Linked DNA regions of Homo sapiens: region 2 is linked to region 1. The links come from fine-mapping of genetic effects on gene expression. A gene starts in region 1. The other region holds a variant in brackets. All regions are shown on one strand. Distances are between the middles of the regions. Region 1 holds the start of IK (IK cytokine). Region 2 holds the start of PCDHA1 (protocadherin alpha 1).

The links.
Region 2: its variant is fine-mapped to the expression of IK in whole blood (INTERVAL, PIP above 0.99).

The regions. Positions count from the first base shown.
Region 1 is chr5:140,645,754-140,651,131 of GRCh38, reverse strand. It overlaps IK (IK cytokine), which reads right to left and starts at 3,303. Exons shown (of 20, transcript NM_006083.4): 1 at 3,208-3,303; 2 at 2,595-2,661. The coding sequence starts at 3,223. It overlaps NDUFA2 (NADH:ubiquinone oxidoreductase subunit A2), which reads left to right and starts at 3,502. Exons shown (of 3, transcript NM_002488.5): 1 at 3,502-3,649; 2 at 3,770-3,876. The coding sequence starts at 3,549. It overlaps MIR3655 (microRNA 3655), which reads right to left and starts at 3,288; the gene lies at 3,206-3,288. It also overlaps a transcript of TMCO6 not described here. RefSeq lists enhancers at 3,229-3,764, 3,505-3,924.
Region 2 is chr5:140,784,414-140,789,791 of GRCh38, reverse strand. PCDHA1 (protocadherin alpha 1) reads right to left here and starts at 3,652. Exons shown (of 4, transcript NM_018900.4): 1 at 1,108-3,652. The coding sequence starts at 3,501. It also overlaps PCDHA@. The variant T/G (reference allele first, on the strand shown) is at 2,157.

The DNA.
Region 1 (5,378 bases):
CTACCAGAAAGTTTGATAAATCAAGTGTGAGTGAGAATTTGGGAAGGGGACTCTCTCATATAATGCTGATGAGAATGTAAACCAGTATAACCAATTTGAAGGGCAATTTTGCAGTATTTGTTAAAATTTAAGTATATATATCCTATGAGCCAGCAACTCCATTTATTTATATTTAGCCTGGTCCATTACTGACATATGTATATAAGAAGGCCTGTAAATTTAATTCAGTTATAGCCTTGAAAATAATCAGTCTGGCCGGGTGCAGTGGCTCACACCTATAATCGCCGCACTTTGGGAGGCTGACGCAGGCGGATCACCCGAGGTCAGGAGTTCAAGACCAGCATGGCCAACATGGTGATATCCCATCTCTACTAAAAATACAAAAAAATTAGCTGGGCGTTGTGGTGGGCGCCTGTAATCCTAGCTACTCAGGAGGCTGAGGCAGGAAAATCGCTTGAACCTGGGAGGCGGAGTTTGCAGTGAGCCGAGATCTAGGTATTACACTCCAGCCTGGGCAAAAAGAGCAAGACTCTGTCTCAAAAAAATAAAAAAAAGAAAAGAATCAGTCTGAAACAGACTAAGCGTTTATTAGCTGGAGACTGACTAAACTATGATGGTGTTTCCCAAAGAGGGAAAGACAGCACTAATGGTACAAGAGATTATTTTAATTGGTACACTAACAAAGACTCCTCTCTTGATCAAATTAAAGTCAGACTCCTTTAAAGCTCTCTTCTGACTAGGGCTCTTCCTTGGCCTGCTGACCTCAGTTTTAAAAAGGAATCCTAAGTCAGTTCACAGAAAGTTTTCCCACTCTTGATATCCAATCCAACTTGATATCTAATCAAGTTCCTCTTCTCCCCAAGGAAGACTTTATTGAAGACTACTGTAACAAGAGTCAAGACCATTGTAATAGAGTAGAGAGACTGAACTTAATTCCGAATACAACAGGGACAAGTGAGAATTTATAGAAAATTACTAAAAGCAACTTGGTTAGGTATGGGGGTGGAGCGGTGGTTGATTTCTTTGTTAAAACTGTGCTCAGCAGGCCACGGATGAGTCCTGCTGAAAAATGGGACTCTTTGGGGAACCTGACTAAAGTTTAGCCAAGGAGGGAATGCTTGTCACTGCTCTGAAAGATAATCTCAGAAACACTGAGCAGGGTTTAAAAAGAAGCAAGTTGCAAAAATGATATATACAGCATAATATCATTTAACTCAAATATTTTAAATCACAAAGCAATGTTGTGTTTTCCTCAGATATGCATGTATGTGTATAAATGCATTTAAAAAAGAGTAGGAGGGCCAGGCGCAGTGGCTCACGCCTGTAATCCCAGCACTTTGGGCCGCCGAGACGGGCAGATCATTTGAGGTCAGGAGTTCAAGACCAGCCTGGCCAACATAGCGAAACCCTGTCTCTACTAATACAAAAATTAGCCAAGCATGGTGGGGCATGCCTGTAATCCCAGCTACTGGGGAAACTGAGGCAGAAGAATTGCTTGAGCCCAGGAGGCAAAGGTTGCTGTGAGCAGAAATAATGCCATTGAACTCCAGCCTGGGCAACGGGAGGAAAAGATATGCCAAAAAAGGTAACTGTGGTTACTTCTAAGAAAAGGACTGAGGCTGGGCACGGTGGCTCACGCCTGTAATGCCAGCACTTTAGGAGGCTGAGGCGGGTGGATCACTTCAGGCCAGGAGTTCAAGACCAGCCTGACGAACACAGTGAAACCCTGTCTCTACTAAAAATACAAAAAAAAAAATCAGTCGTGCATGGTGGCACATGCCTGTAGTCCCAGCTACTTGGGAGGCTGAGGCAGGAGAACCGCTTGAACTCAGGAGGCAGAGGTTGCAGTGAGCCAAGATTGCATCACTGCACTCCAGCCTGGGTAACAGTGAGACTCCGTCTCAAAAAAAAAAAAAAAGAAAGAAAAGAAAAGAAAAGAAAAAAAAAAAGAAATGGACTGGAATTGGGGATGTTATCAAAGATGATTTTATCGGGGGCCAGGCACGGTGGCTCACGCCTGTACTCCCACCACTTTGGGAGGCAGAGGCGGGTGGATCACCTGAAGTCGGGATTTCAAGACCAGCCTGATCAACATGGAGAAACCCCATCTCTACTAAAAATACAAAATTAGCCGGGCGTAGTGGAACATGCCTGTAATCCCAGCTACTCGGAAGGCTGAGGCAGGAGAATTGCTTGAACCCGGGAGGCGGAGGTTGTGGTGAGCCGAGATCGCACCACTGCATTCCAGCCTGAGCAACAAGAGCGAAACTCAGTCTCAAAAAAAATAAAAAGATGATTTTACCCTTATTTCCTATGTTTTAATTTGCTATTGGAAGAAGTAATTCCTATATAATGTGTAATTACACAACACGTATAAAAAAAAAAAAAAACTTAACACCTTTCCTGCAGGAATTTCCCTTCTAATACCCTTATGCACTTGGCCTGATCCAGTTAAGGCTCACAGAGATAAAGGGCCAGCGGGTATAATTTTTTACCATCCTTGATGACAAGACATTCAGAATTCTTTCACCATCACCACCACTTTTCTATTCATTGCCCAACTCATTTCCATGGTCCTAGCACAAAATACTCACTGGTGGAAGGAGTGAGGATCATCCACATCGTGGCCATCGGGGGCCAAAGGGTTGGAGAACGGCTCACCTGACAAAAAAAATTGACGTTAATTTAATCAGTCTCTTACGTGTCAGATCCTATGCAAAAATTTGAGATATAGTAGTGAACAATACAGAACAAAAGTTAGAACAGCGACAGTGTCAACACAATGTAATAAGTGCTGAAATAGGAAACTACAAGAAGCTGTGGGAGCACAAAGCAGAGGACCCTAATCCTGCGCTGGAGGATCAGAGAAGACTTCCGGAAGATCACGTCTAAAATACTACGTAAAAGATAAATACGCGCAACCCAGGATTAAGTATGGGGACAGGACTGGGGGAAAGCGATCCACGCACAAAAGCCGCCCATCATCACTTGGAGTAGGAGTGAGGACTGGGGACGGAGTTTGGAGCTGTCGGCCTCACTTAGGACCCTGTGGCTTCTCCGGGCTCAAGCGTCACACATACATACATACACACACACACACACACACACACACACACACACACACCCGGCTTAAGCTCAGAAGCTACAATAATGCGCCAAGTGCCCCAAGTGCCATGGGGAAGAAATAACGGATGGCCTGAGCCTTACTATCTCGCTCCGGCATTTTGTTATCGTTCTTTCGCTGTCACCAACAATCGAGTCTCCAACAGCAACACCGCAGCGACAAGCTCTTTCCCACAGTGCACCTCAGAATCAACCCACACTGCTTTGCGTTCGCAGCCTTTCCGCTTCCTGTTTTTCCCTCCGACCAACCCCGAGCGCAAAGAAATTGACCTCGCAGCGGTCCTACAATACTTTTATATCATTGGCCAAGCTTTACCCCGCCCCTGCCTCATGCAGCCTATGGGCTAGGCTTTAGGGTCCGCGGTTGGTCAGACCGGAGCACTTGGCCTGAAGACCTGGAATTGGCGACTTCGATATTAACAAGGATGGCGGCGGCCGCAGCAAGTCGAGGAGTCGGGGCAAAGCTGGGCCTGCGTGAGATTCGCATCCACTTATGTCAGCGCTCGCCCGGCAGCCAGGGCGTCAGGTGAGGCGCGGCGTGGTGAGGCGGGCGGGCTTCGGGACGCCAGGGTCACGACCTCGACCTCCCTGAAGTTGAGGGAAGCCCCCGCCCACAGCACGCGCGGCGCTCTCTCCGGCCCCGCAGGGACTTCATTGAGAAACGCTACGTGGAGCTGAAGAAGGCGAATCCCGACCTACCCATCCTAATCCGCGAATGCTCCGATGTGCAGCCCAAGCTCTGGGCCCGCTACGGTGAGTGCGGGACGCCAGGGGTCTGGGGCTCCGGTAGGGGAACAAGGGTTTGAGAAGAGAAGGGACCGCCCAAGGTCGTGCAGAAACCCGTGGAGAAACTAGAACTCGGACTTTAGCCTTGCTGTTGATCTTGTTTCCATGAAGAAATTTATATTCGCAGGGTTATATGATGCGTTGTATTCCGGGCAACATAAGTATGCAGGCTGACCGAATCCTGCGTAGGGACCAGGAGCTGACGTTTTTGTAGTTAAGAATGGGCTTCAGACAGGAGAGAAGTTAGTCAATATAGTTTCTCCAAATAACGTGTAGCCAGTGTCAGTCCAGGTAGTGTGTGAGAATCTCAGTAATTTTGCACATAGAGCTGGGCCCTGTGCTGAGTGCTTCCCTGCCTAACTCATTTAATCTTCATTAGTTAGGAGGAAGCGTGTTCTTCTTTTCTCACTGTAGAGATTAGAAAACGGAATCAAAACTTTGTTTTGCACTATTGTTAAACTCTAGCTGCAACTTTAGATGCAGCTAGAGTTTAACAGGATTGAGCCTTTACATTTATTCCCCTTCCTAGAATGCACTTACCCCTCTAAGACTGGCATGGCAATGTATTGCAAAATGAAATTTTCCTATCATGTTGCCTAACACATTGTAGGTATGCAATAAATGTTTATACATACTGAATAACAGGATTTTAATCACAGCTTTTAACTATATGGTGCCCTGGGAATGACGGGAGGAGGTGGAGGAGAGTGACCACCTTAAGCAGATTGGTTCTCAGAGTAGATATCTGTGAGACACAGTAGACATTAGACATGCACTAATAATTGGAGAAGGAAAAAAGCTTCTCCTTCCAAAAGCCAGTAGACTACAGGAGGAGATAGACACGAGTAACTTTAGTGTATTGTGCTGGGTATTATGTTAGATAGCCTATGGGAGCCTAGAGAATGGGTACCCAGCTGGGTGCGGTGGTTCACGCCTGTAATCCCAGCACTTTGGGAGGCTGAAGCAGGTGGATCACCTGAGGTCAGGAGTTCAAGACCAGCCTGGCCAACATGGTAAAACCCCGTCTCTACTAAACATACAAAAATTAGCCGGGTGTGGTGGCGGGCACCTGTAATCCCAGCTACTCAGGAGGCTGAGGCAGGAGAATTGCTTGAACCCAGGAGGTGGAGGTTGCAGTGAGTGGAGATCGTGCCACCACACTCCAGCCTGGGTGACAGAGCGAGACTCCGTCTCAAAAAAAAAAAAAAAAAAAGAGAGAGAATGGGCTCCCAGCTGAGGCTGGACCCATGCAATACATTGCTCACCGTAGTTAATAATAAATGCCTACAGTGCCCCCGAAAGCTTCCCTGAAACAACCCATTGCGGCCATCCAGAATCAGCCAAAATTCTATTTGGACTTGGGCTTCCTAGATGTGTTTGAGACCTATTGTATTAATTCTAGGCATACCAAATGTATTTTGATCATATCTCTTTAATACTCTTCCTGTCTTAACAAGACTAAGATAAAG
Region 2 (5,378 bases), 140 kb before region 1:
CCTTTATCCACAAAATGTGACGAAAGTCTTCACTTCATAAAATCGTTGGAAGGATCGAATGAGCTAAAAAAGTAAAGGGTTTTAGAACATTTGTGAGTGAATGGGAGGAATGGGAGGTGCTTAATAAGTGTTTCCTAACTGGATCCCCGAAATAGCAAATACATGCAATGCTAAGCCTTCTAGACCCAGGGGAATTCAAGGTTAATGGCATCAGGAAATTGTTCACAATGACAATGAAGTCGTGGTTGTATGTTTTCATAAAGAAATTAAACAAATCGCCCAATAAATGGTGTTTTTTGTTTGTTTGGTTGGTCGGTTTTGGTTTGTTTTTGTTTTTGTTTTGACAGAGTCTCACTCTGTCGCCCAGGTTAGAGTGCAATGGTGCGACTTCGGTTCACTACAACCTCTGCCTCCCGGGTTCAAGCGATTCTCCTGCCTCAGCCTCCCCATTAGCTGGGATTACAGGCGCCCACCACCAGGCCTGGCCAATGTTTTTGTATTTTTAGTTGAGACGGGGTTTCACCATGTTGTCCAGGCTAGTCTCAAACTCCTGATCTCAGGTGATACGCCCTCCTCGGCCTCCCAAAGTTTTGGGATTACAGGCATAAGCCACCGCCCCCAGCCAATAAATGTATTTTAAATTACGTTTGCTTAAAACTTCAGTTTATTGTTCACTTTGAAACTTAGCCACGTAAAGGGAAGGCAGATGATTTCTGTAACTTTGTCAAGAATTGTTTGTCCGGGGCTTGACATTTCACCAGAAAAGATAACATAATAAGTTACCCCGAATATGTCACTGTTATTTTACTACATTGAGATATTGTGTTAAATATGACCAACATTACCTTTTATTGTACCTTGTATTGTAGCTTTTTTAACCTGCCATTTAAATCAAGAAATACGACAATTTGTCCCTACATTTTTCTTTGCTTTCTAGTTCCATTCAAGACAAAACTGCCATTAATAGGATATCTACATTCAATGGTATGATTTATTTCAACGTTAGTGAACACCTTGAAGACATTTTTTAAAGTGATATTTGAAAAGATGATTAGACAAGTTAAATATGAAAAATATTTAAAGCCAAAACTCGAAAGTTGGACTTACATTACCAGAAAGATCCAAATTTGCTTCTGGTTGTTCATTTCTTTCTGACGTGTTAAGACTTGGAGATAGGCCTGGGCTGAAGGCCATGAGGTCGGTCTTGGGTGGGCCCTCGCTAGAGCACACCCTCTGCCGCCTCTGCTGTGAGTTCGACCAGCTCCCCAACGCGCTGGAGCACACCAGAGTGGGCTTGCCCGGCACATACGCACCCTCAGTGGGCGGCACTGAGCACCGCAGCGCCGTGTACAGCAGCAGTGTGAGCACCAGCAGGCTGGACACCGCGCAGATGGCGATGATCAGGTACACGTTGACATCCACCAGCGCCGCCTCTGGGCCCGCGACACCCACCGACGCCCGCGAAGACGCCTTTGGCGCCTGGCCGCTCTCCACCAGAGATACAAGCACAGTGGCCGTGGCTGTCAGCGCCGGCTCACCGTGATCCTTCACTAGCACCAGAAGGCGGTAGCGCGACAAGTCAGCCTCGTCCAGGACACGAGTCGTGCTGATCTCGCCCGTGTACAGCCCCACGCGGAACGGGATGCGCGCGCCGCCTGCTGCCGGCTGCAGTTCATAGGACAGCCACGCGTTGTAGCCCGAGTCGGCGTCCACTGCGCGCACCTTCGCCACCACATGACCCGCACCCACCAATCGCGGCACCAGCTCACTGACTGCACCAATAGTGCCACCCACTCGAGGCGCCAGCAGCGCCGGCGCGTTGTCGTTCTCGTCCAGCACGAACACCTGCAGCGTCACGTTGCTGCCCAGAGGCGGCACGCCCGCATCCCGCGCGCTCACCTGGAACTGCAGCAGCTCCAGCTCCTCGTGGTCCAGGGGCTGCAGTGCGTACACCTTGCCGCTCTCCGCGTGCACTGACACGTAGTTCGACAGCGCGCGCTCGCCCACCCGCCGTTCCACCAGCGAATAGGACACCAGCGCGTTCTCCTGCGCGTCCGCGTCCCGCGCAGACACCGTGAAGATGTGGCAGCCCGGCGGGTTGTTCTCCTTCACGAATACTGTGTACTCGGGCTGCGCGAACGCAGGCGCGTTGTCAT[T/G]CACGTCGGCCACCTCCACGGACACCCTGGCCGTGGCCCACAGCGAAGGCGAGCCCCCGTCCCGCGCGGTCACCACCAGCTCATAGACCGACAGGCTCTCGCGATCCAGGGCGCTGTCCAACACCAACGAGTAGTAATTCTTGAAGGTGGACACCAGCTTGAAGGGGACGTGGGGCATTAAGGAGCAAGTCACCTGCCCGTTGGCACCTGAGTCACGGTCAGACACGGTGATGAGGGCGATGACGGTGCTGAGTGGAGCGTCCTCTCTGATAGGCAAATACAATGAAGTGACCGCCAGTTCTGGAGCATTATCATTTACATCCAGCACTTTCACCAAAACCTTACAGTGATTTGACATCGGAGGACTTCCTTTATCAACTGCCTTTACTTGAATTTCGTAGGATTTTGTTTCTTCATAATCCAGTTTATCAATTAACCTAATTTCTCCTGAGCTGGAATCAACTTTGAATTTTTCTTGAATGTCACGAGAAATACCACTGTCAAAGGAAAAGACGACTTCACCATTTACACCTTCGTCAGCATCAGAGGCATTTAATGTGGTCACTAATGTTCCATTTGCTGTAGTCTCTAACAAGTGGACTCTGTATACGGCCTGGTCAAACAGTGGGGCGTTATCATTAACGTCGAGGACGGTGATCAGCAGCTCAACTGTACCTTGCAGCTCCGGTTTGCCCCCATCAGTGGCAGTCAGTAATAAGTGAAGTTCTGGTGTTTCTTCTCTATCCAAATATTTTCTCAATTCAAGCCAAAGAGATTTACTCAGTTCATCACTTGCCTCTACATCCAAAGAGAAATAATCACTCGGGCTGAGCGTGTACGTTAGAAGAGCGTTAGCACCAATGTCTGCATCAGCAGCTCCTTCTATCGGAAAACGCGAATTCAGGAGTCTAGATTCAGGAATAAATATTATTTGTTCTCTGCCCCTGAAGACGGGTGGATTATCGTTAATGTCTTTCACCTTCACCTCCACATGGAAAACCTGCAGCGGCCTGTCGGCGATCAACTCCAGGTGGATGCTGCACTCCGCGCTCCACTGGCACAGCTCCTCGCGATCGATCCGAGAATTCACAAACAAAATGCCATTCTGCAGATTTACCTCCAGAAGGTCCCTGTGTGTTTTGGACGCCACCCGGAACAGGCGAGGCACCAGCTCCGCCAGCTCCAGTCCCAGGTCCTGAGCAACGCGGCCAACGAAGGTGCCGTGTTTGGCTTCCTCCGGGATCGAGTAGTGGAGCTGGCCGCTCCCCACCTCCCAGGCTGCGAGGAGCAGAAGCCAAAGAAGCAGATCCCGGGCTCCCAGGCCCCCTCTCCTAGAAAACACCATTGCAAAAGGACTACACCTTTCTTATGCTCTCCTCTTACTTCAAAATCATGCCATTTTATCTAATATTTCCAATCATTTATCTCTTTACCGTTTCTGTCTTCTCTCAGGCGGTGACAAAATGGAGCTTCCTCCTTCACTTTTAGTGATCAGTAGCTCCCTTCTATTGACAAGACTTTGTGGTGTACAGCGACATCATGTGGCCAATGTAAATTTTAGATCCATTCGTTGATTTTCAAAATGCAATCTATATCCGTCTGCAATTTGTTAAATGCAATCATTTTCAATTTTATGTCCTTTTAAGACCCAGAACATTTCAAATCTCATTGGAGAGTGTGTAATCCAGTATTTTCTTTTAGTAATGATTACAAACATATTACAATTGAATTAGAAACTTTAAGATCTACTTAACCTCTCCTTACATCATTTTATTTAAAACGATTTATCAGCTTATATATTTTTATTATTAAATATTTGCAACTGAATGTCAAAGTTTTAAAATAAGGTAGTTTGACTGATATGATTCACCTTATTCTAGGATAGCTTGGGTGTTTTTTTTTAAATGATATTATACACACACACGTACATATGCACATGTATATATAGTTATCAGGTACTTACAGATGACATTTTTGGAAAATTTCTGAACACATGTAAAATTCCTTTAATGTGGTATGAACAACTTCATCATTTTCTGATACTTTAACTGTTAGAATAAAGATATTTGTGACATTTTCCCTTGTTGTTATATAACATAATGACCTAAGTATTGAACTTATAACTCTGACTTCCAAAACTCAGTATTCCTAATTGAATCGGTGTCCACTAGATCTTTTATTCCTATGTTAAATTTTCATCCATGCTTTTTTCTTATCAAGACCAAACATTGTCATATTACAACAAAAATCATATGGATATTGAATCGCAATATCAGAGACACGTACTGAGAATCTTTATATAATCCATAGTCAAAAGAAAAATGTAAATCTTATGCAAAGATATATTTAAAAAATAATTTGAGAATAACCTACCTATTAATAAACCTCTCTTTCAATTTCAGTCCAATTCATAATCAGAATCCCATAGCTACATCTTAGTTTGACTAAGAAATGTGATCAGAATAAGCTATCACTAGTTTTTTTTTAAAGGAATGGCCATAATGTTTATATTTTAAGTACTAAGAATAGTTAAGGACATTAATGTGAATAAGGATTATTTAATCCAGTATGTCTTCATAATCAGAAAGCCTAAATCCTTGTTTACTTGATAATTAAGATATAGACAAAACATGGAGCTATTTTATTTTTAACAAGCAGTTTATATATTTTAACAGTTCAATGTAGTAATTACTTTATTACAAAAGATAGAGCAACATAAGATACATGAATATTCTCTTAGTCTAAAAGTGAAGCAAACTTTAAACTTGGAAACATTCTAAAGGTTAGCAGATTTAGAGAACATTGTCAACATTTGGAAGTGCAAAATACTTTAAAGTGTTATAAATTTTGAAGACTGACACAGTGGTGAAATCTCTGGGTTTTTGCCTTATCTATTCCAGACTTGGACCAGAAGAAGCCAACAACCAGAAACATTATTGGGTACTGATGCAAAAAGCTCAAAAAAAAAAGCATGCTTTCTCTAGACAAAGGACCAGGAAATAGGCAGCCTAGCAAGACAAAAAGCTCCTAGATAATCATTTACTCCAGGTAATCACCACAGAAAAAAACTGTGGCCCCACACCAGCAAAAGTTGAGTGGGGAATCTAGATTAACGCTCTTGCAAAGCTGTTAATGAGGAATCCCAATACTTCTGGTGGTATCAGATCAGGCCAAAAAATGAAACTGAGACTTTCATTCCCCCAACTGCTAGCAAGCTCCACA